4 linked regions of the Homo sapiens genome follow. The protein of the gene in region 3 purifies or fractionates together with the protein of the main gene of each other region. This does not show direct contact. Each region holds a gene or a part of one and is shown on either strand. Other genes may lie near its edges. The genes, in order: SYN1, DNAJC11, ARMC1 and SYT1.

Region 1 (3,501 bases), on a different chromosome or scaffold from region 3:
GTGCCTCGGAACCCTCCTTGCACCGCACCCAGGCCGATGAGTTGCCTGCCTGCCTACTCAGCGCAGCCCGCCTTGTGCCTTAGGCCCCGCCCAAGCCACCAGGGAGCCAATCTCAGCCCTCCACGCCAAGGAGCCTTGCCCACCAGCCAATCAATGTTCGTCTCTGCCCTGATGCTGCCTCAGGATCCCCCATTCCCCACCCTGGGAGATGAGGGGGTCCCCATGTGCTTTTCCAGTTCTTCTGGAATTGGGGGACCCCCGCCAAAGACTGAGCCCCCTGTCTCCTCCATCATTTGGTTTCCTCTTGGCTTTGGGGATACTTCTAAATTTTGGGAGCTCCTCCATCTCCAATGGCTGGGATTTGTGGCAGGGATTCCACTCAGAACCTCTCTGGAATTTGTGCCTGATGTGCCTTCCACTGGATTTTGGGGTTCCCAGCACCCCATGTGGATTTTGGGGGGTCCCTTTTGTGTCTCCCCCGCCATTCAAGGACTCCTCTCTTTCTTCACCAAGAAGCACAGAATTCTGCTGGGCCTTTGCTTGTTTATTTTGTTTCCCGACTCTTCTCTTGGGGTTCAGAGCCGCTGAGGGGTGGGGTGAGTCCAGGCAAGGAGTGAAGGTCAGGGGGAGGTGCGGACCACATAAACAGCGTCACTGCACGCATCACCACAGGCGGCACGATGAACGAGGACCACATATGCCAAGCACGGCACAAAAGGAGGCCACGTCAGTCACAGACACAGACACCACAGCAAAGGTGGGGAAGCGGAGACCACTGGCCTTCCGTGTGCAAAGGATTCTGGGAAGATGGGTGGAGTTTGCATATTTAAAGACAGCTGTCAGAGGCAGGAAACTGGGGAGGGGGTCCCTGGGGGAACCGAGGGGTCCTGGAAGTGGGAGGGGCTCCCAAGGTATTGAATGAGGTTGAGGGGAGCTGGTGAAGGGAAATCCTTGTGGGGCTAGGTGTTGGGTGGCATTTGAAGATGTGGATCTTCAGAGGGATGGAAGATCCATGGGAAGGGGCTCAACAGTAGGGGTTTCTTGAGGATTTGGAAAATTATGATGGGAAATAGGTGTGCTGGAGAGATTTGGGACCAAAAATAGGGTTTTCCAGGAACTTCAGGGCTCCAGGAAGGGATTCTGCAATGGGTTGCCTGGTATTTGGGCACTTCCAGGAAGGAAAACGCCCTCTGGGGAAACCAGGGGCGGAGGTCTTCAGGAATGTGGAGGTTCTAAAACAGAAGTAGATCCTGAAGTGACCACGAGTGGGGTTCTAAAAGGACTTGGGGATTCCACATGTGAGAACCGGATTTAGGGCCAGGAGGAGTCAGGTTTCTCAAGGTACTCGGGGATCTTGAGGAATGAGAGGTGGAATCTTGGAGAACCGGGAGATGGGTTCTCAAGGGATTTGGAGACTCCAAAAGTGAGAAATGGATTCAGGGCCCAGAGAAGGGTTGCCCAGGGATTTTGGGGTTCTCAGAGTGGGGTATCAGTCGGAGAAGAGGCTGGCGAAAGACTTCCTCAGGCTGCGGATGGTCTCAGCTTTCACCTCGTCCTGGCTAAGGCTGGGCCTGGGCGGGGCTGGCTCTGGAAGGTTGAAGGCATTGGTCAGAGACTGGGATTTGCTAGAGAGAGACAAGGTGGAGGCGTGGGAGGAAGGGGGAAGAGGAAGGGGAGGAAGGGGAGAGAAACACAACGTTACCCCAGGCCCAGCCCCAGCCCTGCCCCTCTGATCCTGGGGCTGTGCCTGTGACCTCCCCACCTGCCACCATGGGCCTGGACCCTAACAGGTTCTCAAGGCTGGGAGCACTCAGGTGGAGTGGGTGGAGTCCTGGGCCAGGGAGGCGAGATCTGGGACAGGCTGGGAGGACTTGGATCCAGGGTGAAGTGTGGGATTCGTGGCAAGAGTCCTGGGCAGAACCTTCTCTGTGAATTCTTGGCTAGTTTGATACAAAGGGGAAGATGAGCAGGGAAGTTTCCAATCTAAGGGTGAGGTGTCTAGGAGGGCATAGAAAGGGCTTGGACCAAGGACAGGCTGTTGGGCAAGTCAGCCTAAGGCAGAGCAGCTGGGTGGGGCAGGGAGGACGTCTGAGCTGGGATGGGAGTTGGAATGGACCAGAAAAGGCAGATGGGTGATGATTCGCGGGGAGACTGAGATGGGCCAGAAGGATGTGAAGGAGGAGGAAAAGTATGAGGATGGAGTGGGAAGAGCCAGATGATAGGAGGACTAGGACTCGGGCCAGGAGTTTTAGGGATGGGTTGGTGGCGGGGGGGCGAGTTTGGCAGGGAAGGCTCTGGGCTGGGCAGGAAGTTGCAGAGGGTGGGTCAGCCAGGTGCCTGGGAGGCCCTGGAGGAGGAAACTTTCCCAGGGCCTTTGAGGAGGAATTCGAACTGAGTGCAGTTTCTCTGGGATTCTGGCACCAAATTCCTGGGGTGGGGGTGCGGAGCCTCTGGTGGGCCGGGAGGAGCGAAAGCTTGGGGGAAGGGCTTGGCTCAGGCTGGAGAGAGTTCGTGGGACCCCTGCATAGGACCTGGGTCTGAGGAGCAAGGGAGCTAGGGCTGCTCTACTGGGGCAGCGGCCCGCTTTGTGAGCAGCAAGGCGAAGGCTGCTGTAGGGGTCCCCTTACTTGAGCTGGGGGTGCGGAGGTCCCCCTGCAGCGGCGGTGGCGGGTGGCGGCACGTCCTGGCTGGGTTTCTGGGCCAGCTGTGGTTTGGGACGTCCAGCGGGGCCCGGGCCGCTGGGCCGAGGCTGCTGCGTGGTGGGTGGCCCAGTGCGGGGCACGGGACCCGCCTGGCTGGCCTGGCGTGTGGGGCCGGCTGGGCCTGGGGGTTTCTGGGGCGGGCCCTGGCGCTGCTGCCCGCCCGGTGGGGCCCCAGAGGCCTTTGGCGGAGCCGGGCCAGAGACGGATGTCTGACGGGTAGCCTGTGGGGGGCCCGCCTGGCGCTGGGGAGACGGAGAGGCGGGCGGGCGGGCTGCTGGAGGCGCCCCGGGGCCTCCCGCCACTGGCCGGGATTGGCGGCCTTGACCCTGGGTCGGCGGCGCGGCCTGGGACGCGGGCTGCTGGGGCGCTGAGGTGGGACTTGGAAGGCGCTGGGGCAGGGGGCTGCCAGCTGGGGGTCCAAGGCCTGAAAGGTGCTGCTGGCCCTGCGGGGGCGGGCGCTGCTGCAATGGGGGTCCCTGGCGCTGGGGGCCTGGACCCGGCTGTGGAGGGCCGCCTGGGGGACAGAGGGAGAGAAAGAGCACACGTGAGAGTGAGCGGGTAAGAGATGGCGGGCTGAGGGAGGGGACTGCGACCGCCAGCCTCTCGCTTACCCTGTGGTGGGGGTCGCTGCTGAGCCGGGGGCCCTGCGGGCTGCTGGGAGGTCTGGCGGCCCAAGGGCAGGGCCCCTGGGGACGGAGTCTGCGGCAGAGGAATGGAGCAGGAGAGGTTAAAAATAGTTACCAGCCAGTGGAGCATCAGCCAGTGATGACACAGGTTCCCTGTGCGCTGGGTGTTGCCC
Region 2 (7,044 bases), on a different chromosome or scaffold from region 3:
CAAGCTCCTTCCAGGGACTGCAATCTGTACCAGGCATATGCTGTAACAGTGGTAATAATGCAGCAATGTTCTCAATTGTCTTCTTTTTAAGAAATGTGTGACTCCTTTAAAAAATATATGCTATTTTATTTTTTCATCTGTTGTCTTACATCCTTTCTTAAACAAAGGTGTAAGTAAGTAAAATTAAAATGAAAGGTTAATAAAAAGCAGACAATAAAATTCTACAGCCAAGCAAAGCATGTTGCTCTCATGTCCCGTTTTCCATTGTTTTATTACTAAATTCACAGCAAATACAAAAGTTTTCCATTGAATTCTCTTTAAGAAAGAAAATAAAAGAGGTGTTTTGGTAGATAATGCAAAATTAGAGCATTAACATTTCAAGAAGCAATTGTTTGAAATGCCCAAAGCAGAAAATAACTGGCTTATAGATCATTAAAGAAACACATTGTGAAATGTAACCTCACGTTTGCCAATCACATTATGAGATGACATTGGAAGTGGTGGGGCATCCTCAACAGCCCCCTCCCTGCACACAGGCAGCTTCTCTAAACTCCACTTCCCGGGCACCCTCTTGGGCCCACCCCTGCCCCCAGCTCTGCCTCCTCTCTGCTTGGCTCACAACTATCCTATCTTTACCCCAAACACCCAAAAAATGTTATCCTTGAGCCTGCACCCTACTCCCATACTTAGCCCCAACTTCCAGGAAAGCTCCCTATCCCCATGTCAACTTTCCAGGAAGCACAAGTTCAGAGAGATCACTGTCTTTTAAAAAGAACAAACTCAGTGTTTTGAACAGAAAGTAAAAAATGCTTCAGGAATTTTTTTTTTTTTTTTTTGAGATGGAGTTTTGCTCTTGTTGCCCAAGATGGAGTGCAATGGCACGATCTTGGCTCACTGCAGCCTCTGCCTCCCGGGTTCAAGTGAATCTCCTGCCTCAGCCTCCCATGTAGCTGAGATTACAGGCATTTGCCACCACGCCTGGCTAATTTTTGTATTTTTAGTAGAGATGGGGTTTCTCCATGTTGGTCACGCTGGTCTCAAACTCCCGACTTCAGGTGATCTGCCCGCCTCAGCCTCCCAAAGTGCTGGGATTACAGGCATGAGCCACTGCGCCCAGCCTCTTTTTTTTTCTTTGACAGAGTCTTGCTCTGTTGCCCAGGCTGGAGTCCAGTGGCACAATCTTGGCTCACTGCAACCTCCGCCTCCTGGGTTTGAGCAATTCTCCTGTCTCAACCTCCCAAGTAGCTGGGATTACAGGCGAGCATCACCACACCCGGCTAATTTTTTTTTTTCGTATTTTTAGTACAGACAGGGTTTCGCCATGTTAATAAGGCTGGTCTCAAACTCCTGACCTCAGGTGATCTGCCCGCCTCCGCCTCCCAAAGCGTTGGGACTGTAAGGCGTGAGCCACCACACCCAACCTCAGGAATTTCATAAACTAATGCTTAGCATACATTCTAGCACTATGATTTTTAGTAATATTACAAGTGGATAGCAAAGTTCATCCTTAGCCAGGATGAAGCATACCAAGTATGTCTTTCACATTTTTAAATTTATTTATGTACATGTATGTCTTTCACATTTTTATTTATTGTTATATTATCGTTTAGATGGATTCTTGCTCTGTCGCTCAGGCTGGAGTGCAGTGGTGGTGCGATCTTGCTTCACTGCAAACTCCATCTCCCGGGTTCAACCAATTCTCTTGCCTCAGCCTCCCGAGTAGCTGGGATTACAGACGCCCACCACCACACCCAGCTAGTTTTTGTATTTTTAGTAGAGACAGGGTTTCACCATGTTGGCCAGGCTGATCTCGAACTCCTGACCTCGTGATTCACCCGCCTCAGCCTCCCAAAGTGCTGGGATTACAGGCATGAGCCACCACGCCCAGCCTTTTATTTATTATTATTTTTATAGACGGAGTCTCGCTTTTTATAGACAAAGTCTCGCTCTGTCGCCCAGCCTAGAGTGTGGTGGTGTGACTGCAGCTCACTGCAGCCCCAAACTTCTAGGTTCAAGCAATCCTCCTGTAACCAAGTACCCCCATTTTTTTTTTTTTTTTTTTTTTGGAGACAGAGTCTCGCTCTGTTGCCCAGGCTGGAGCACAGTGGTGCGATCTCTGCTCACGGCAACCTCCACCTCCCAGCAGAGATTCTCCTGCTTCAGCCTTATGAGTAGCTGGGATTACAGGCGCCCGCCATCAAGTCTGGCTAAGTTTTGTATTTTTAGTAGAGATGGGGTTTCACCATGCTGGCCAGGTGGGTCTTGAACTCCTGACCTCAAGTGATCCGCTGGCCTCAGCCTCCCAAAGTGCTGGGATTCACAGGCATGAGCTACCATGCCCAGCCCCATTTTTTCTAAGAGATAGTTTAATTATTTTCTCCTCTCCCCCTTTCCCCGGTACCCTGCTTCCTACTTAGCCCTTTAGAAATGCAAATATAACCTTTCCCCTCCCCCTCACCAGACATCTTCTATGGGGCAAGTTCAGCTAACTACGTGCTCCAAGACGGATCTCTTGACAGTGGATTTGCAGACCAAATCATGTCCCCATGGCCACTTTTACTTCTTTCTGCCCAGGAAGATGCCAACTCAATTGCCAGTTAGATAAAGTACCCAGATAGCAGGGGGACCCCTGCCCTTGCTCATTTCCTCCTATACCTTATAAAAGTGCCTGCTTTCTGCTCTAAAAGTGAAGCGGTACAGCAGGACATCGTGCCCCTTCCCCAAGCTGACTTCAGAGTAAATTCACTGGCTTTGTATGCGCCTCACTCTTGTTAACTGGACTCTGCATGCGGTAAACAACTGACCTGCTTTTCGGCTGCACCTCCACCTTAGGCTGGACTACAGGTTACAGCTCATGCCACCATGCCCAGCTAATTAAAAAAAATTTTTTTTGGCTGGGCGCGGTGGCTCACACCTATAATCGCAGCACTTTGGGAGGCTGAGGCGGGCGGATCACAAGGTCAGGAGATCGAGACCATCCTGGCTAACACGGTGAAACCCCGTCTCTACTAAAAATACAAAAAAAAAAAAAAAATTATCCAGGCATGGTGGTGGGGGCCTGTAGCCCCAGCTACTCAGGAGGCTGAGGCAGGAGAATGGCGTGAACCCGGGAGGCGGAGCTTGCAATAAGCCGAGATCGCACCACTGCACTCCAGCCTGGGCAACAAAGCGAGACTCCGAATCAAAAAAAAAAAAAAAAAAAAAATCAGCTGGGCGTGGTGGCAGGTGCCTGTAGTCCCGGCTACTCGGGAGGCTGAGGCAGGAGAATGGCGTGAACCCAGATGGCAGAGCTTGCAATGAGCCGAGATTGTGCCACTGCGCTCCAGCCTGGGTGACAGAGCGAGACTCTCTCAAAAAAAAAAAAAAAAAAATTTTTTTTTTTAATTAAAGATGGAGTCTTGCTACGTTATGCCAACCCAGGCTGGTCTCAAACTCCTGGACTTAAGTTATCCTCCTGCCTTAGCCTCCTAAGGTGCTGGAATTACAGGTGTGAGCCACCCCCCAATCCTTATGTCTTTTTTTAAAGTAAGCAAAACTTCAAACTTATCAAAATCCAAGAAATAACAATATATATTAACTAAATACCTACTTATGACAGGCAATTTATATACATTCTCAGCACCTAGCAACGCACATACCACACAGGTCATCCTGGCCTACAGTAAGTGCTTAAGCCATTATTACCTGTTACCTACATTCTAACATTAAAGAAACTGATGGCCAGGTGCAGTGGCTCATGCCTGTAATCCCAGCACTTTGGGAGGCCGAGGCGGATGGATCACGACGTCAGGAGTTTGAGACCAGTCTGGCCAACATAGTGAAACCCTATCTCTACTAAAAAAAAAAAAAAAAAAAAAAAAAAAAAAATTAGCCGGGTGTACTGGTGTGTGCCTGTAATCCCAGCTACTTGGGAGGCTGAGGCAGGAGAATTGCATGAACCTAGGAGGTGGAGGTTGCAGTGAGCTGAGATTGCGCCATTGCACTCCAGCCAGGGTGACAGTGTGAGACTCCATCTCAAAAAAAAAAAAAGAAATTGAGAAACAGAAAGGTTAAATTACTAGCGTTGAAGCATAGAACTTCCAGAAGAGTAAAATGGGATTTGAATACTGGACTCCAGCTGCAAAGCCCTACATAGTGGCCTCCCTCTATCCCATTGTTAACTAAGAAGTACTGGTGCCTCCATTCTGCAGGTAAGTAGAGGCTGAGGTTAAATGACTCGTTGAAGGTCACACAAGAGGCAGGCAGCATGGGCTGAAATTCTTGCTTCTCAGCCTCTTGGCTTACAGAACACCCTATGGAATGCAGACATCTGAATAAGTTGTTTTTGGACAACCGAGGCTTAATTCTATGTGCCTGAGGCACACATTTAACTGGAGTCATTATAAATATCAAACTTTAACATAATGTAGTAGATGGAAAATGAAGGAACTGACCTTTTCAGAGCCATCTTTATTTTTTATTAAGACAAAATTAACTGCCCATCATGAAGTTTGATAAGAAAGCAATAAATGTGTAAACACACACCACCTCACTGCTTTAGGTATTTGAGTCGCTCAAATTGGCACAGTTGAGCCTTTTACATGTCAATTTCTGCAGATGGCTGAGTCAGTGGTCCTGATTGGAGGGTCTGCTGTCTCCTTCTTTGTGGGTGACTTTGACCCTAGGACAATCTTGCCAGTGACCAGGGGACCTTCCTCTACTCTTCTAGCCCTTCCTTTCCATCTGCAGCTCAAACTCAACTGTTGGGCCTCACTCTGTGGCTGTAACCTGCAGCTAAGGAAACCCCAACAACACACAATTGTGAAAATAATGATCTACCCTGTACCAGAGAAGGAATGAAAATGCAGGGACTTGGGGTAAACTTTTTACTGGTAGGTGATACTTTTGTACTTCTAGTTTCATGGCTGTTCTGGAAGGATGAAGATCTCAGAACACTGACCTCCATATATGGACTGCAAGAAAAAAACTATTTATTAACAACTTCATTTTTTACTTAACTGTGTTTTTCCAAAAGTGTTTAAAAGTTGAAAAGGAGGATGGCTCCTTAAGGTTAAAACAATTGGGACCAGAGGTCTTCAAACAGGTTACAAACACTGCAAAAATGAAATTCTTTCAAAGACAATGATAAAGTTAGAACTGTAGCCATTTGTCTTGGGAATAAATTAGGTTTGAAATGTGTCAATTAAATTTCCTAATTAATGGATCAGGTAAATTTAACTCTGATTTATAGTTAAGGAATCCTTTCTCCAAATAAATTTTGGAAAATCATCCTGGAAATCTCAGAGGAGTGAGATTTTAGGAACCAGATGATGCATCTAACACTAAACCAGAAAACCTGTCTGGCTTTGGTGTGCCCAGTGAGTGATAAAGTACTCCCTCCTCTCAGTGTGAGGCAGGCACGACAGATGATGGCCCTGCTCTGTAAACAGGAAATCTAGAAGGAGAATCATTAAAGATCATGTGTCTTGTCATAGGAGAACGGGGGGTCCTTTCCAGCTGCCTGCTTCACTCTCTCCAACGGCGGCAACAATGGGGTCTCCAACCTTTTAGCACCACGGACTGGTTTCATGGAAGATAATTTTTCCACAGACTAGTGGGAGTGGAATGAAACTGTTCCACCTGGGATCATCAGGCATTAGTCAAATTCTCATAAAGAGGACCTAACCTAGATCCCTTGCATGTGCAGTTCCCAATAGGGTTCATGCTCCTATGAGAAGCTAATGCCACCACCAATCTGACAGGCAGAGCTCAGGCGGTGATGCTTGCTTGCCCGATGCTAACCGCTTGCTTGCCCGACGCTAACCGCTTGCTTGCCCACCACTCACCTCCTGCTGTGCGGCCCAATTCCTAACAAGCCACAGACCAGTACTGGTCCATGGCCAGGGGGTTGAGGACCCCTGCTCTAGAATACAAATTTAAGGGGATATTTTAAAGTTTAAATCCTGGAGAGGGAGATTCTTCAGCTGATTGTTGACATTTCTATATTAATCCAATTATATACCTCTATTATGCTTATAATTTTTTTTTTTTTGAGACAGAGTCTTGCTCTGTCACCCAGGCTGGAGTGCAGTGGCGCAATCTCGGCTCACTGCAAGCTCCGCCTCCTGGGTTCACACCATTCTCCTGCCTCAGCCTCCTACAGGCGCCCGCCACCACGCCCGGCTAATTTTTTGTATTTTTAGTACAGACGGGGTTTCACCGTGTTAGTCAGGATGGTCTCCATCTCCTGACCTCGTGATCCGCCCGTCTTGGCCTCCCAAAGTGCTGGGATTACAGGCTTGAGCCACGCGCCCAGCCTATGCTTATAATTTTAAAGTAGGATTCCCTGGTTTTGTCTAGAATTGTTTCCATTTGAGATTTCTAAAGAAAACTCTCTGAACTCTACTGAACATTGAGAGTTTTGAGGACACTCTTTTGAAGGTACTTTGAAGTATCAGTGGGAACAGGGCCTTGCCTCTCACAGCTATACTTAAATGGCAACTACTCTAGAACTGACAGCAAACACACAAACAGGTATTAAGATATTCTTCCAACCACACATTAAGATTTAAGATTACTCTGACTTTTTTCCAACTAAATCACGTTATTTCAACTTCACGTTTGATTTCACACAAAAAATTCCAGCAAATATCAAGTTCAGACATCACCTTCAGAGCTTCTAATGGAATCCCGGGATGGAAAACCAGCACACCACACCTGAGTATGACATTTAACACCGAGTTTGCTGACGAAGACAACAGAAAGTGACTTCTGCAAGGGAGCATGTTTCATATGGATTTAACCTATAGCCATATAGCCATAAATATGGAAAGTGCCTTCACTCATTGGGAGAAGTAAAAAAAAAAAAAAAATTTAAGAAATATTTTTTGGCTGGGTGCAGTGGCTCATGCCTGTAATCCCAGCACTTTGGGAGGCTGAGATGGGTGGACTGCTTGAGCTCAGGAGTTTGAGACCAGCCTGGGCAACACAGTGAGACCCTGTCTCTACAAAAACTACAAAAATCAGCCAGCTGTGGTGGTGTGTGCCTGTAATACCAGCTACTCT
Region 3 (7,566 bases):
ACCTTGATATTCTTGATGATAACAAGTTACTCTGACATCCATTTCTAACTACCACATTGCCTGAATTTTTGGGGGGGAACAGGGTCTCACTCTGTCACCCAGGCTGGAGTGGCGTGGTACGATTTCGGCTTATCACAACCTCTGCCTCTCAGGTTCAAGCAATTCTCCTGCCTCAACCTCCCAAGTAGCTGGGACTACAGGTGCCTGCCACCATGCCCGGCTAATTTTTTATTTTTAGTAGAGACGGGGTTTCGCCGTGTTGGCCAGGCTGGTCTTGAACTCCTGACCTCAGGTGACCCACCCTCCTCGGCCTCCCAAAGTGCTGGGATTACAGGCGTGAGCCACCACGCCTGGCCATTGCTTGAATTCTGTTAAATGATCAATATTTCTGTGGATTGCAGCGTTCACAAAGCAGATTTTATGAGATAGCAATAGAACAGTTAGGAAACTGAAAACAGATAAACGAAAGTTACAACTCTAACCCCAATCATGTATTAGATACATATTATGTTTCTGTGTTAATTTCATCAACTTCACACACTCAAGCTGTTTGATAAAAATGTCCGCCTTTGCTGGGTGCAGTAACTCAGGAGGCTGAGGCAGGAGACTGGTTGAGGCCAGAGTTCAAGTCTACAGTGTGCTATGATCTTGCCTGTGAACAGCCACTTTACTACAGCATGGACAACATAGCAAGACCCTGTCTCTTAAAAAAAAAAAAAAAAAGTCTATCTTCATAGGTTGGAAAAAATGATTTTAAATGAATATTTCAGGATTCAGTCTATCCTACCCACTATATGCCCAATTTGGCAAAGTGCAAAATAATTTTTATTTTATTTTTAAGATAGGGTCTCGCTCTGTTGCCCAGGCTGGATGGCAGTGGCAGAGCCACTAAAACTTTATGCTGCTGTATAAATGCATCTCTTTTAAACATGGCTATGAACATATGAATAAAATGCTAAGCTCTAAAACTCTGTAAGATGGCCAGGTACCATGGCTCAGGCCGGTAATCCAAGCACTTTGGGAGGCCCAGGGGGGTGGATCTCTTGAGCCTAGAAGTTCAAGACCAGCCTGGGCAACATGGCAAAACCCCATCTCTACTAAAAATACAAAAGCTGAGGTGGGAGGATCACCTGAGCCTGGGAGCTCGACAGAGTGACAGCTCATCTCAAAATAATAATAATAATAATAAAATTTGGGAGGCCGAGGCGAGCGGATTACGAGGTCAGGTGATTGAGACCATCCTGGCTCACACAGTAAAACCCCGTCTCTACTAAAAATACAAAATATTAGCCAGGCGTGGTGGGGGGCACCTGTAGTCCCAGCTACTCGGGAGGCTGGGTCAGGAGAATGGCGTGAAACCGGGAGGCGGAACTTGCAGTGAGCCGAGATTGTGCCACTGCACTCCAGCCTGGGCAACAGAGCGAGATACCGTCTCAAAATAATAATAATAGTAATAATAAAATAAAACTCTACAAGACGCCGGGCACAGTGGCTCACGCCTGTAATCCCAGCACTTCGGGAGGCCAAGGCCTCTGGTACTCCAGGGGTTGAGGCAGGAGAATCGCTTGAACCCGGGAGGCGGAGGTTGCAGTGAGCCGGGATCGCATCACTGAACTCCAGCCTGAGCGACAGAGCGATACTCCGTCTCAAAAAAAAAAATAAAAAATAAAGACCATAGCCTCACTAACAAATGATGAAAATGTGAAAAGACTTTTTATACCTTTACTTTCTCTTGTTTAGTTCAACTTGGACAAACAAATCATTCTATGACAAAGAATACTTCTCATCGTTTAATGAGCACTCTGGTCAGTTAAAGGTTCCTGTTAAAAAGCAAATGCTGATTCAGTAGGTGGGAGAGTCTGAGATTCCGCATTTCCAACAAGCTTCCAGGTGAGGCCTATGCTACTTGTCACACTCTGAGAAGCAAGCAGTTAGAAGATACATGTGAGACACCTGTAATTAGGCAGATGCCTGCAAGATTTTTCCTTCTCGTACAGTCAAGATTCACCATTCAATTCAAAGATTTAATTCTCACATGCCAAGAGATGCAGAGGGAATACGTTTAACCTAAATCCTTATTCAGTTAGGTGGGCTTTGATAAAAATAACATAAGCATTGATATTAAATCTGACTTTCCCCTTACTCGAAGAGTTAACTGTAACTTTGAGAAGTTAAGTTCTTAGAGCCTCAGTTATCTCACATAACAATCCTCAGCGGTTATCAGATTAAAGTAAGAACGCGAAATGGTAAAATCAAACACCAGCAATTACCAAACCAGAATACTACTTGCTCATGTGGGGACATCTGTCCTGCCAGGTGTTGGAGGTACCTTCTGCACTGCCCTGACACTTCAGTGCACTAAGTATCACGAAAGGAGTTGCTAACTGCACGAATACCTACCCCCGCCCTCCCAAAACACAGTCTTAAATATAAAAATGGGAACACTGGTCTCTCTTGAATTAAGCCTAACACAACTATGTCTTTCCGCTCTTAGGAGACACGCAGGTGCACAAAACTAACAGAAAGTTACCAAAGAATAACCTGGAGAGATGAAAAGATGAGATGACACCCATTAATAATACTGGGGTTAGTAAAAGTCAGATGTGAGGGGGGACAAAGAAGAAATGAGCAAAGCTAACAGATTCACGGGACACGTGGGGGTAGAGCGTGCTAAAGCGCCTCACTGGGACCCACTACTGGATCTGACAAGAGGCAGGCGGGGCGCCCCTCCCAGGCGGATTCGCTGCCTCGGTACAGGGGCCGCTTCCCGCGGCCTTCCCGGCTCCACTGCTTTGTCTGCCGCCCGTGGACCCCACATACCGCTCCAGAGCTTTAGGAGTCCAGAGCCTGCCACACCATCAGGGCCACACCTACGGATGAGGTAGAGACCCAGGCGGCGCGGAGCGAGCCCTTCGGTTCGCAGCCCCGGCCGCGGCGATCGCAAGCAACCGGACTAACTCAGGGAGCCAAAGAGCGAAGGCGCTGGCGGGCAAAGGCTCTGCAGACTCTTCCCAGGTGACCTGACGCCTCTGTCGCTTATGCCCTCCTATTGGCTGATAATGAGTCCAACGTGAGGATAAAGTATCCAATCAGTGAAGGTCTTTTTAGAGTGAAGCGCTCATAGGTGGTTTAGGGAAATACACTAAGAGTCAAGGGACTGATCCAATGAGGACCCAGGAACACTATATTGGCCCTAACTACTCGCCGTCCACCAAGCCCTAACCGAAGAAATTTGATTCCGGCTGGGAAACTGTCACACCTTCACAACCTCAATACCCAGCTTTGTGGGGCCAGCAGGACTTCTCCGGTCCTGCATTCGGTAATTCAAATTGAGTATTTCTTTAGCAACTCTTGCAATTCTAATAAAGGCAATACCTAATATTTTATTCGCTTCTGTGAGTCTTAATTCATAAATTTTTTTTGTTTTGTGTTTTACTGTGGACGTTAGCACTACATTAGGCGTTCCTTGGATTTTCGTTTATTTCTTCTTGGTGTCCACTGTCTCCCTAGCAGCTTGAAAGACGCAAAGTACAGTTTTCGTTTAAGTAGCAATTTATTTTGGGGAAGAGGTTTTTTTTTTTTTCTTGTAAGGAATTTATTATCACAATCTTCTCAAATTCATATTTTAAAATATCTTCTATGTAGTTTATCAAAGTAAGGATTTATATACTTGTTTTATGGATGGCAATCACTTGAAGTTTTTGTTTAGGCATAGATTTTATTTTTTTTTTAATTTCTTTAAATACAAACCTACTCTTAACCCGCAGGCAGATCTTTGAGAATAATGTATCCATTGCAGTCAATAACCCCAATAAACAGATTCTGGATTCTCTCCATAACAGTTTGATTCGGCCACGTAGCTCATGTATTAAAGTCAGAAGGAATATGAGAGGCCTCTAATAGGAAAAGAGTGTGGATAACAATAAATATCCCAGATTGTATTCAATGCTAATATCTCCTATACTTCTTGAATTTAAAAACCAAGCAGCTACTTCTTGAATTTCTTTCCGTTCCCTTGTTCTCGGTTATCCTCTTGCTTCCAATGAACTCAAAATAGGAGCAAAATAAGCTAAGTAGAAAACAAATAGGCCGGGTGCGGTGGCTCACGCGTGTAATCCCAGCACTTTGGGAGGCCGAGGTGGGCGGATCACTTGAGGTCAGGATTTCGACACCAGCTTGGCCAACATGGTGAAACTCTGTCTCTACTAAAAACCAACCAACAAACAAACAAAACTAACCAGGCGTCGTTGCGGGCGCCTGTAATCCCAGCTACTTGGGAGGCTGAGGCAGGAGAATCGATTGAACCTGGGAGGCTGAGATTGCAGTTAGCCGAGATCACGCCACTGCACTCCAGCGTGGGCAACAGAGCGAGACGGTCTAAAAAAAAAAAAAAAAAAAGTCCAAAGGGCACAGCCAGGTTAAACATAACCCATTTGGTTGAGTTACTTTCTTCAGTATAGTTATTAAAAACAACTAAAAAAAAATCCCAGGAAATTAAACTTGCTATTTTTGTTAACGTTAATATATTAGGAAGGCAGGTACGGGGGCTCACGCCTGTAATCCCAGCACTTTGGGAGGCCGAGGTGGGTGGATCACCTGAGTTCAGGAGTTCGAGACTAGCCTGGCCAACATGGTGAAACCCCGTCTCTACTTTTTTTTTTTTTTTTTTTTTGAGACAGAATTTCTATCTTCCTGCCCAGGCTGGAGTACAATGGCGCAATCTCGGCTCACCGCAACCTCCGCCTCCCTAATTACAGGCATGCGCCACCACGCCCGGCTAATTTTTGTATTTTTAGTAGAGACGGAGTTTCTCCATGTTGGTCAGGCTGGCCTCTATCTCCTGACCTCAGGTGATCCGCCCGCCTCGGCCTCCCAAAGTGCTGGGGTTACAGGCGTGAGCCACCGCGCCCGGTCAGCCGTCCCTACTAAAAATACAAAAAATTAGCCTGGCGTGGTGGCGGGCGCCTGTAGTCCCAGCTACTCCGGAGGCTGAGGCAGGGGAATTGCTTGAACCCATGAGGCGGAGGTTCTAAGCCGAGGTCGTGCCACTGCACTCCAGTCTGGGAGACAGAGCGAGTCTCCGTCTCAAAATAAATAAATAAATAAATACTAAATATAATCATGCTTCTGCCATTATTGAGAAAAGTAATTCTTCCTGCACACTGCCATTACAGAATAGATGACTGCTATTAAGAAGCAGGGGGTGTGTTCACAAAAAAATAATTACCAGTTTCCTAAGCACCTATGGATTATAAGCCTTAGGGAGGTATTTAAAGATTTTAATAATCTGTATTCCCATATTAAAATGTCTAAACTTGGCCGGGCGTGGTGGCTCAAGCCTGTAATCCCAACACTTTGGGAGGCCGAGGCGGGCGGATCACAAGATCAGGAGATGGAGACCATCCTGGCTAACACGGTGAAACCCCGTCTCTACTAAAAATACAAAAAAAAAAAAAAATTAGCCGGTCGTGGTAGCAGGCGCCTGTAGTCCCAGCTGGAGGCTGAGGCAGGAGAATGGCGTGAACCCGGGAGGCGGAGCTTGCAGTGAACCGAGATCGCACCACTGCACTCCAGCCTGGGCGACAGAGCGAGACTCCGTCTCAAAAAAATAAAAAATGTCTAAGCTTGACACCAGTGAAGTTATACTACCTCCCATTGTGAGTCATTGCTTGTTCTTAGCCTCAGGTATCTTCCCACGGGACACTGGAATGTCGTTTCTCAGTAGCTGTGTTGCTTAAGACATGATTCAGATACTGGCAGTTTCATTCATTTAATTATTTAACAACCGGTTTTTGAACGCATACAATGTGCCATAGACAATCTTGACTATGGATTCAAAGGTAAGGAAAATCACAATCCCTGCCCTCAAGCAGCTCATGGTCTAAAGAGCTCAAGAAACAGTGGATTTCAAAACTTTTTGATCAGGCAACACTTTCAGCTTTATATATATGTATTCGAGTACATAGCTCTGACATATTTATATGTATTTATTCCTAAATTCTATACATGTACTATCAAATTAATATGTAGTTTTGAAAATGTCAAAGTAGAAATTTTTAAAGAAAGAGAAATATTTATAAATTGAAGCTCTCACTACCCATCCAGATGAAAATAAAATTGGATCCATATATTACATCATTTACCAAAAAAATAAATTCCAGGTGTATTAAAAACTCAAACCTTGAAGACTACATATATGACCTAGAAGCAGAGGGAAACCTTGAACAAAACTGGAAACCCAAAAGTTAAACAAGAAAAAAAATGGATACATTGGACTTGTTTTAAAAAGCAGCTGGCCAGGCGTGGCGGCTCACACCTGTAATTCCAGCACTTTGGGAGGCCGAGGTGGGTGGATCACTTGAGGTCAGGAGTTCCAGACAAGCCTGGCCGACAATGGCCAAACCCCGTCTCTGCTAAAAATACAAAAATTAGCCAGGCATGGTGGCACACGCCTGCAGTCCCAGCTACTTGGGAGGCTGAGGCAGGAGAATCACTTGAACCCGGGAGGCAGAGGTTGCAGTGAGCAGAGATCACACCATCGCACTCCAGCCTGGGTAGCAGAGCGAGACTCTGTCTCAAAAAAAGAAAAACAGCTCTATAGGTCAGGGTCAATCCCAAGAGCTGGTTTATAGAAAAGAATACCACAATCTCTGGAAAGTGGTGATCCTTTAACCTATTTGGATATAGATTTTTTTTTTTCTGGTCACTATGCACTGATCTAAGAAGAATTAAACTGTTTCAAGACTCAGAACAACCAAATATGCCCCAAAGTCTATGACTGAAACAAAATAGCTCAACAATTTTTCATTGGGCACCATGGTAAAAACATTCATTCAAATTGAGATTTAGATAATAAATGCAGATTAAAATGTTATCTTTTCCCAACAATATGTGCTTTTTTTTTTTCTTCTTTGAGATGGAGTCTTGCTCTGTCGCCCAGGCTGGAGTGCACTGGAGTGCAGTGGTGTGATCACGGCTTACTGCAACCTCTGCATTCTGGATTCAAGTGATTCTACTGCCTCAGCCTCCCGAGTAGCTGGGATTACGGCATGCACCACCACACCTGGCTACTTTTTACATTTTCAATAGGAATGGGGTTTCACCATATTGGCCAAGCTGGTCTCAAACTCCTGACCTCAGGTGATCTGCCCGCCTCGGCCTCCCAAAGTGCTGGGATTTTACAGGCGTGAGCCACCTCGCCCAGCCCAATATGTGCTTTTATTAGTAATTAAAGGAGCTTTGAAGTCAATGGGCACTGCATGCATCACTGACTCTTGCCTCAGGTGAGATGAAGTTGGCCCACTAACTGGTCTTGACCAGCTCTCCTGTAGCCCAGCCTCTCCCAGACACATCTAGCCTCACTGTGTCTCAAAGCACCCTTCAGAAGGGCACTTCACCGTCCTACCCAATAATCTTTTACCATCCATTCCTATATTCTAATGCAGAACCTCCTGAAGCTTATTTCAGTGTGTTACATTTTCTCCAGGGGGCAATTAGAGCTGGGGAAAGAAAAAACAGAACTAGAGGAAAAGGGTCTCAACTTCCAGGAAAGATCCTTTGTAAGCT
Region 4 (7,724 bases), on a different chromosome or scaffold from region 3:
ACTATCTGATAATTTGACCAGATGAAATAACTAATATTCTCCATTATGAAATGAAGTTCAAAACTACTCAGCAACAACTCTCAATCATGTGGTATTTTTGTGAAATTAGTATTTTAGGATTTTCCCTATATATTAGCAGTCTTCAATTCTGACAAAAATACCTCGAGGCATAATTATCATATTTACTCTGAAACATTAATGAGATTTACTAAAATATCCTGTCAAAGGGAGAAAAAACAAAGATTGTATGAAATTGTGACATTAGACTATTTTGTGGGATAACAAAGTAAGAATTTCCTATAATATATCATGTAAGGTCTCTCCCCAATCCACTCACTATATATTGGAATTAGTTCTGATTTCCAATACACAGATATTGAATTTTTTAGAAGTATTTGAAAAACTACTCATATCCATATTTTTAGATGTTATTTCTATAATTAACATTTGTAAAGAGTCATGAAAATAAATGTCACAAACCAAGCCTAAATTTTCACATATTCCTAAGACAGTGGAGAAATGAGAAAACAAAATCTTAATTTTCTCACATGAAGGCAGCTGGCTTCCTTTTTGTACATCTTTTCATGTCTAAACTTGTTAATTCAGTTGTACATACATGTGAGGTAATTAAGTGATTGTCCCTTTGTCCTTGTAACCAAAAGGTGGCACCTCTAAAAACCAGAGTTAGCTTTCAACAGAGACACTATTTTTTTTTTTTTTTCATTTAAATGTCAAAGCCCTAGAAAGAAAATCGTTTTTCGTGACTTGGTAATTCTATTTAGGGAGAGATCATTGCCTCAAATGCAAAATGGTTTGGAAAATAGTACACATTACACTGATGGCAAATGAATTCAGCTCTTCTCTAAGTTGGTGTGTAAACTTATATATTAAACGTACGTAGTGAAAAAATACTCTCTGAGATACAAAATTAGTGTGGAAGGTCAGACACAGTTAAGATAGAAGATTCTCTTTTCTTATATCAAGTGGAGTTCTAGACAAAAAAAAGTAAGACTCTGCATTTCCCCTGATAAATAAAAAGAAGTGTTTTGTATACTAACATCTGTGGATTTCTCTGTGTTCAGGTAAGACCCACTTGGAATGCTTTCCTATTACATCAAACGAGGCATTTCTCTATACCTCCTTCCATCTGACAGTACTATCGCTTAGCTGTCCCTGAAGAATAATAAGAAAAGAAAGCTTATATCCCCAATGATGGAATTAGAGACTGCTGAAGCTGCTGTAAAGGCTCTGTCCAACAAGTACCATTTACTTGACCTATTATGCAGGCAGCCAGGGGCATGTTGGTGTTTTGATATATTTTTCTTTCTTTTAACAAGACGTTACAAAAATGTTTTCCCCTTCAGGATTTTTAAAATTTAGGGTATCTTTCTAGCATTACTTTCTAAACTTAGTTCCAGTACAGGAGGATTCTTGTCCAACTGAGCCTCCATGTGCCTTCTAAAGGGAGTGCTGAAATTGTATAAACATCATGTTTACATCCATTAAATATTGTCCTATTAAAAGAAAATAAAGCCAGGCATAAGTTTGGTATCCAGACAATAAAATGCAAATAGTACAAAGGTAGAATAAAGTGAAAATTCTACACAAATGTAGCTTCCATACAAAAGTTAAACAGTTGCTTTATTTCACGAAAGGGTTAATACTGGAGAAAGTGAATATCAACATGTACACAAAGCTAACTAGAAGATTAGCTTTCTCAAAGTAGAAATCCAAGCCTCCCTATAAAATTGTTGTCCCTTGCAAATGTTTTGAAACTTTACATTTTTTGATCCCCCAACAACAGGCCATACCAAGAAACCTCAGGAAAGTAATAATCTATTTTAATTGTTTTTTTTTTTTTGTTACTCAAGAAAGCTTTCAAAGTTCAGATATTAACACTGATGTGCAATACCAAATTGTTAGCCCCACAGGACAGATGGAAACAGGAAAAGTCAGATGGTTGGCACTCAAAAGCAAAAGCAATTAAGCAGTTGAAAGTGGGTTGGATTGTCGGTTTATTTTTGTTCCATTTGAACGAATCAAGTGAGAGACATAGACTCTTGCAAGGAGGAAATCAAGTCAAACTTGACGCTTCCTCTCTCTGACAGCCCAAGCTGGACTGGTTGTCTACTCCCCTTATTCAGTTTAATTGCTTTATGTGCTCTGATTTTCGCAGAGCTTGTATTCTATCTTGTTTACGTTCCCCCCCCCCCCCATATCCCTCTCCCCAACAGAAAGAAATCTTTCTCCTTTCTTCACTCCCCCTCTTTCCTCTAAGAAAGGCAATCCTCTCCAGGAGGAGAAAGAAACGCTGTGCGTGCTTAGGGTGGGAGGAGGGCGAGAGGGGAGGTGTGGGAGAGAAAGAGAGAAAAGATTGAGATTGGGGGTGGGGGACGGAGGAGAGAGAACAAGAGAAGGAAAGAGGAAGCAAGAAGATGGGGGATGCCCAACATCAACTCCAGGCTCTAAATCACGGGCGCTGTGCAAAGTGCTTTTCCAGGAGATGCACATGTAGTCTCATATTTCTCACAATAGGCCACCCGGGGATCCCTCCCTAGGTCTCAGACTCCCACCACTAAAACCCAAGTGTATCGAGAAGAAAATCTTTGGGATGGATTCGAGCAGATAGGCACCGCCGAGGTGGCCGCGCCGCCAGTCCCGCTTCCTTACCTGGAGGGCGGACCGGGAGGTGGTGCCGGGTCTCGGTCCCCAGTGCTCTCCCCGCGTGGACCGGCGCGAGGCACACGCGTACTCTCGCTGCCTCCGCTCTTGGAGGGGCAGCCTGCAACACAAAAGGGGTGTGTGGGTGTGGGTGTGTGGGAGGTTTTCCAGGGCCACCAGCTGGTCCCACGTGGTCGCCCCCACCCTACACACACCCCTTCGGGGCGCCAAGCCCCCCTCTCGGCTGAGCACCACCCTGGGGACTTGCCCGGGGTGCAGCCTCAAGTTGCCGCTGCTAACTGCTGCTGCCGCTGCCGCTGCTGCAGGAGGAGGTGGAAAGACACTGGGGGCAGTACTCGGTCTAGAGCATCCCCACACTGCAGCTTCTCCAGGAATCCCTCCAGTGAGGAGGCGGCCGCCCATCATCTCCGAGCCCCAGCATCCTGATTGGCTCCACCTCGGGTACGCTGCGCCAAGGAGCCAATCCCCGCGCACTAATAATAGGTGGATCCGTTCAGCCAACATCGCCCATCCCAGTTCTGTTAGTGTCTCTCCATCCCCACAGCGGACAGGGACCTGGGAAGCGGGGTGGAGGCGGGTTGGGGGAGGGGGTGAAGTAAGAGGGGAACAGATCCCAAGGAGACACAATCAAGGGCGTCTGATAAAACCTCTAGGTAGACTCAGGAATGCCCCACAAGCTGTTCAGCAAGCAGTATGCACAGGAGAAAGAGAGCATAATACAAAGCTTTTTTTTTTTTTTTTTTACTCTCAATCAAAACCTACCCTGATACTGAGCATGCCCAGACTGCAACAGCGACCTAGGAGTTTCGATGTGTGTGGGTTCGCCAGCTGTGGGTTTTTGAAAAGCTGGGACCGGGGACAGGAGAGGTAGAAGTTTGTCTTTGGCCATTTAACCCGGCGGAGTTGTGAAAGCTGGGTAGGGTGGGGATGTGAAAGGGTTCCGCACAAGTGTCCTCAAACTGAGCCGCGGGGAGGTGGCCCACCTGGCTGCCGGAGGCTCATCATGCTGTTCTTCTGGGGTTCCGGGTTGGAAGCGGGGGCGGGATAAGCTGAGCTTTGCTGGAAGCCTGGGGACTTCCCGCGAAGGGTGCGGTGGAGCCGAGATGCGGGAGAAGCAGCTCCGTCCCATAGGTGGGGCCGGGAGCGCGACTCCACCCATCAGCGGCGGCTGCCAGGCCGTGGAGAGTGCACTGGGAGTTTCCATTGCAGCGACCAATAAGTTTGTACACTTGGGTCAAGTGCAACATTGTTGGAGATGCTTTTTTATTTTTTCATTTTTATTTTTTGCCACCTCCCTCCCCCATCTCTCTCGACCCCTTGCCAGAGCAGTGACGACTAAAGCATAGATTCTCTCCCTGCTTCCTCTCTTCCCAGCTGAACCGTTCTGCTCGGAAGTAAGAAGCTTTTCTCTTGTGAGGGCGGTGGTGACCTGATTGTCTCTAAGCTCTCAGGCAATTTATAGCTTGGTAATACCGAAATACCGAACAGGAAGGCTCAGCGGGTGGGGGAAGGGACCGCGCGCCAGGCTAGGGGCGGGAGCGGAGCCCAGCTGGGAGAGGGGCCCGTCCATTATCTGCTCCACAGGTGAAAGGATTTCAAAACGGAGAGAACTATTTCCCTTTCTCCCTCCCTCAACCTCGTTTAAAGGCCTTTGAACCTCTTATTTGTTTTATTTAGAAATCCTAGCATTTTGTGTAAACTTGATCAATAGCTACAAATGAGAACTCTCCTAATTGGGTTCTTTATTTTACTGAGAAGATTATCTTGGCATCTCAGGTAGGGAAATAAATAGCTATCTCAATTCCCCAAACCCATCCACTTTGAACTGGAGTTTTATTAACATTGGTGTGCAAAGGTAAATGTAGCAAGAATTCAATTAACAGTAACACATTTCTTCAAGTTTTTAATTAAATCTCTTCTACTTATGTAATGTTTAAGATTAAGATCCTTATTCTAAGTATACGGGAAAAGAAGGCAACGTGATATAAATATATCCTTCTAAGTGACAAACACTTGTATTTGGGCTATGCTTGAATAATAGGAAGTTTAACATTAGAGGTAGAAGTGTGAAAATAATGCACCCCAGACTTGTGACTTCATGTAAATATTCACTTTCCATTTTCCAAAATAGTCTCCAAACCTTATTTTAAAATCATTTCATAGTTGGAGAAATAAGATAAAAGAATTTGGTCTAAATTTTATTTCAGTTATTTAGTGAAGGAGAGGAGGAGGAGAAGACAGAGAAGGAAGAAAAACGACAGGATAAAAAGTAGAAGAAGTTGGAGGAGGAGGAAGGGGAGGAGAAGGAGGATGGTGAGGTGGAGGAAAAGGAGAAGAAGGAGGAAGAGAAGACGAAGAAGAATTAAGTAACCCTGTAATTTTGTTGTCCAATAAATATCTTTGGATGAGAAGATTATTATAATATCCACTTAATATAGATCTTTATTCTAAATATATGCCTAGCATACTTTCTAGATTCCAGTGATTAAAACTGGCACATTTATCCTATTTACCAATAGCTGCATGTAGAAAAAAAGTATGCTTATTTTAGAATAAATTAGTCAATAGAATACAAATACAGATTTTAAAATTTTTGCTCCAGACACTGATTTTGTCATTAATATTTTAGTCAATTTCTTTTCCTGTTTACTTCACATCTTACCTAGCAATCTTTCTATTTCAGTGGCCAGAATCCTTGGCAACATGAATGGTATCAGAAGTTTGTAACCCAATGTTCCTTGAGGGAGACTGCAGGTTAAAATAAGAAATGGGCTTTACATGTATATTGTGCTTAACTTTAGAATTGATAACATTTTCTGTACATAAATAATAAGAAGACTCTATTTATATGGTGACTGTAGCTATACTAAGATTTTAACTCTCCCTCCTATTCCTAAATTCTCTCCAAGCTCTTGGGAATGTGTTGAAGACGTCCTCCTGGATCTACTGGGCTGACACAACATTATACTTTGCCGCAAGTGTGTATCATCTCTTTGCCTATTGAAGCAGACTCATTTTTATTAAAAGGAAGATCGGGTCAATTGTTCTGTAGAGACAAAGAGAGAGCTCTTTGTCACTCTTATCATTCCATTTCTTAAGTACTTTTACATCTAGAGTACTTTTGCTGTTGAGAATTAACTTATCCCCTGATTGTATGGTATTTTAAAAATATTATTTTCAGAACTTTTACAAAATCTGTTTAATGTTTTGTTTCCTCTTTCTTCGTTAAAAAAGTGTTATTAATTTTTCTTCACATTTTGCTCTGATCAAGATCTCATTTTCAATATTTTCTTTATTCCTTTTTTATTGGATTCATCTATTTACTACTTTCATGCTTCCTTTGCCATCTATTTTAGGCTACAGGATCAGAATAGAAACTAAATTGGATTGGGGCACTGAGGAGGAAAGTGTGTCTTATGGCAAGAGTGGGAATTAGGGACATTAGAACTAGAAATTCATTAAGTGGAAACTTAGCCAAGGTTTCTGTAAACCACAGAAAGAATACTTAACGTGAGAGAGGTATCAAGAAAATTCTGCAGGTTGTTGGAAAGGCCAGAATTACCTGGTTGATCAATGATACTAAAGAGTTACATTTAATCCGGCTGGGCGCGGTGGCTCACGCCTGTAATCCCAGCACTTTGGGAGGCCGAGGTGGGCGGATCACGAGGTCAGGAGATGGAGACCATCTGGCTAACACAGTGAAACCCCGTCTCTACTAAAAATACAAAAAATTAGCCCGTCGTGGTGGCGGGCGCCTGTAGTCCCAGCTACTCAGGAGGCTGAGGCAGGAGAATGGCGTGAACCCGAGAGGCGGAGCTTGCAGTGAGCCGAGATCCCGCCACTGCACTTCAGCCAGGGTGACAAGTGCGAGACTGTCTCAAAATAAATAAATAATAAAAAAAGAGTTACATTTAATTAAGACTCATACATCATTAAACTTTATATCTTTAGTAGCCACAGTAGTTGTCTGGTAAAAGCTATTTATAAATATCATTACCCAGGATTGTTTCTTTAAAAAAGAAAAATAATTGACTTCTCTAAATTTTTCTATTTTTTTGTTTATTTTTTATATAGATGCAGATCTTACTATTCTTTTCACTTTATATCTGTGTTTCTCAAGATACTGACTTTTTGGTCTCTTTGCAGGACAGATAATTAATTAAATGTTTTCTGGTGTCAGAATTTGGGTAGAATTCCAGCTTCACCACTAATTGGCTATGCCACCTTGAAAAATGTACAAAACCCCTCCAAGTCTCAGTTTTGTCATCTAAAATATGTACATAAGAATACAACATTTATCATTAGGTTTTTTTTCTGGATTAAAAAAAGCAGTGCACATAAAGTGCTAGTTCCAAGCACATAGCAAGAACTTAATGACTATTATTATCATTTTATCATTATCATTGCTGCTACTTCTGCTACTACTATTTTTTTTTTCCAGATTTCTGGGTTATTGGGTTTCCTCCCATCATCTCATCCATTTAAGCCAATAGTGAGCCATAGACTCCTCACCTATGAGCATTAAAGGTAGAAGGGTGTTAATTCATGTTATAAGAACTTTTATTTATTTTTTGATGGGAGGAGTCAGTGTCTAACTCTGTAGCCCATGCTAGAGCGCAGTGACTCAATCATGGCTCACTGCATCCTCCAATTCCTAGGCTCAGGTGATTCTCTCAGCTTAGTCTCTTTAGTAGCTGGGACTACAGGTGCATGCCACAATGTTGGGCTAATTTTTTTTTTCTTTCTTTCTTTTTTTTTTTTTTTTTTTGCCATATTGCCCAGGCTGGTCTTGAACTCCTGGGCTCAAGTGATCCTTCCACCTTGACCTCCCAAAGTGCTGAGATTACACGTATGAGTCACCGCGCCTGGATACAGAACTTTTTTAATACGTAAAATGACAACAGTCATCTGTCTTGCATGTAGTAGTCTTACACTGTAATCATCTACGAGATGAATAATTTAGTTTTTAGGGATGGATACTTAAGCTTTTTTTTCATAAAAACATTTGTTTATATTATTCTTTCAAATTAAGAAATATCCAA

Evidence for each region.
Region 1: the proteins of ARMC1 (region 3) and SYN1 purify together in Homo sapiens (affinity purification with mass spectrometry; 3 studies listed by BioGRID and IntAct, with this or other methods). This does not show direct contact.
Region 2: the proteins of ARMC1 (region 3) and DNAJC11 purify together in Homo sapiens (affinity purification with mass spectrometry; 6 studies listed by BioGRID and IntAct, with this or other methods). This does not show direct contact.
Region 4: the proteins of ARMC1 (region 3) and SYT1 purify together in Homo sapiens (affinity purification with mass spectrometry; 3 studies listed by BioGRID and IntAct, with this or other methods). This does not show direct contact.

Annotation. Positions count from the first base shown.
Region 1 is NC_000023.11:47,571,375-47,574,875, forward strand, and holds the end of SYN1 (synapsin-1), read right to left. Parts: intron 3,402-3,501; coding exon 3,314-3,401; intron 3,217-3,313; coding exon 2,628-3,216; intron 1,626-2,627; coding exon 1,490-1,625; 3' UTR 527-1,489; downstream 1-526. Other genes in the region: ARAF (serine/threonine-protein kinase A-Raf), read left to right, coding at 1-83. UniProt on the Homo sapiens protein: Neuronal phosphoprotein that coats synaptic vesicles, and binds to the cytoskeleton. Acts as a regulator of synaptic vesicles trafficking, involved in the control of neurotransmitter release at the pre-synaptic terminal.
Region 2 is NC_000001.11:6,691,792-6,698,835, forward strand, and holds part of DNAJC11 (dnaJ homolog subfamily C member 11), read right to left. Parts: intron 1-7,044.
Region 3 is NC_000008.11:65,631,178-65,638,743, forward strand, and holds the start of ARMC1 (armadillo repeat-containing protein 1), read right to left. Parts: upstream 3,001-7,566; 5' UTR 2,821-3,000; intron 2,749-2,820; exon of another isoform or gene 1,721-2,748; intron 1-1,720.
Region 4 is NC_000012.12:78,860,056-78,867,779, reverse strand, and holds the start of SYT1 (synaptotagmin-1), read right to left. Parts: upstream 3,007-7,724; 5' UTR 2,671-3,006; intron 1-2,670. UniProt on the Homo sapiens protein: Calcium sensor that participates in triggering neurotransmitter release at the synapse. May have a regulatory role in the membrane interactions during trafficking of synaptic vesicles at the active zone of the synapse.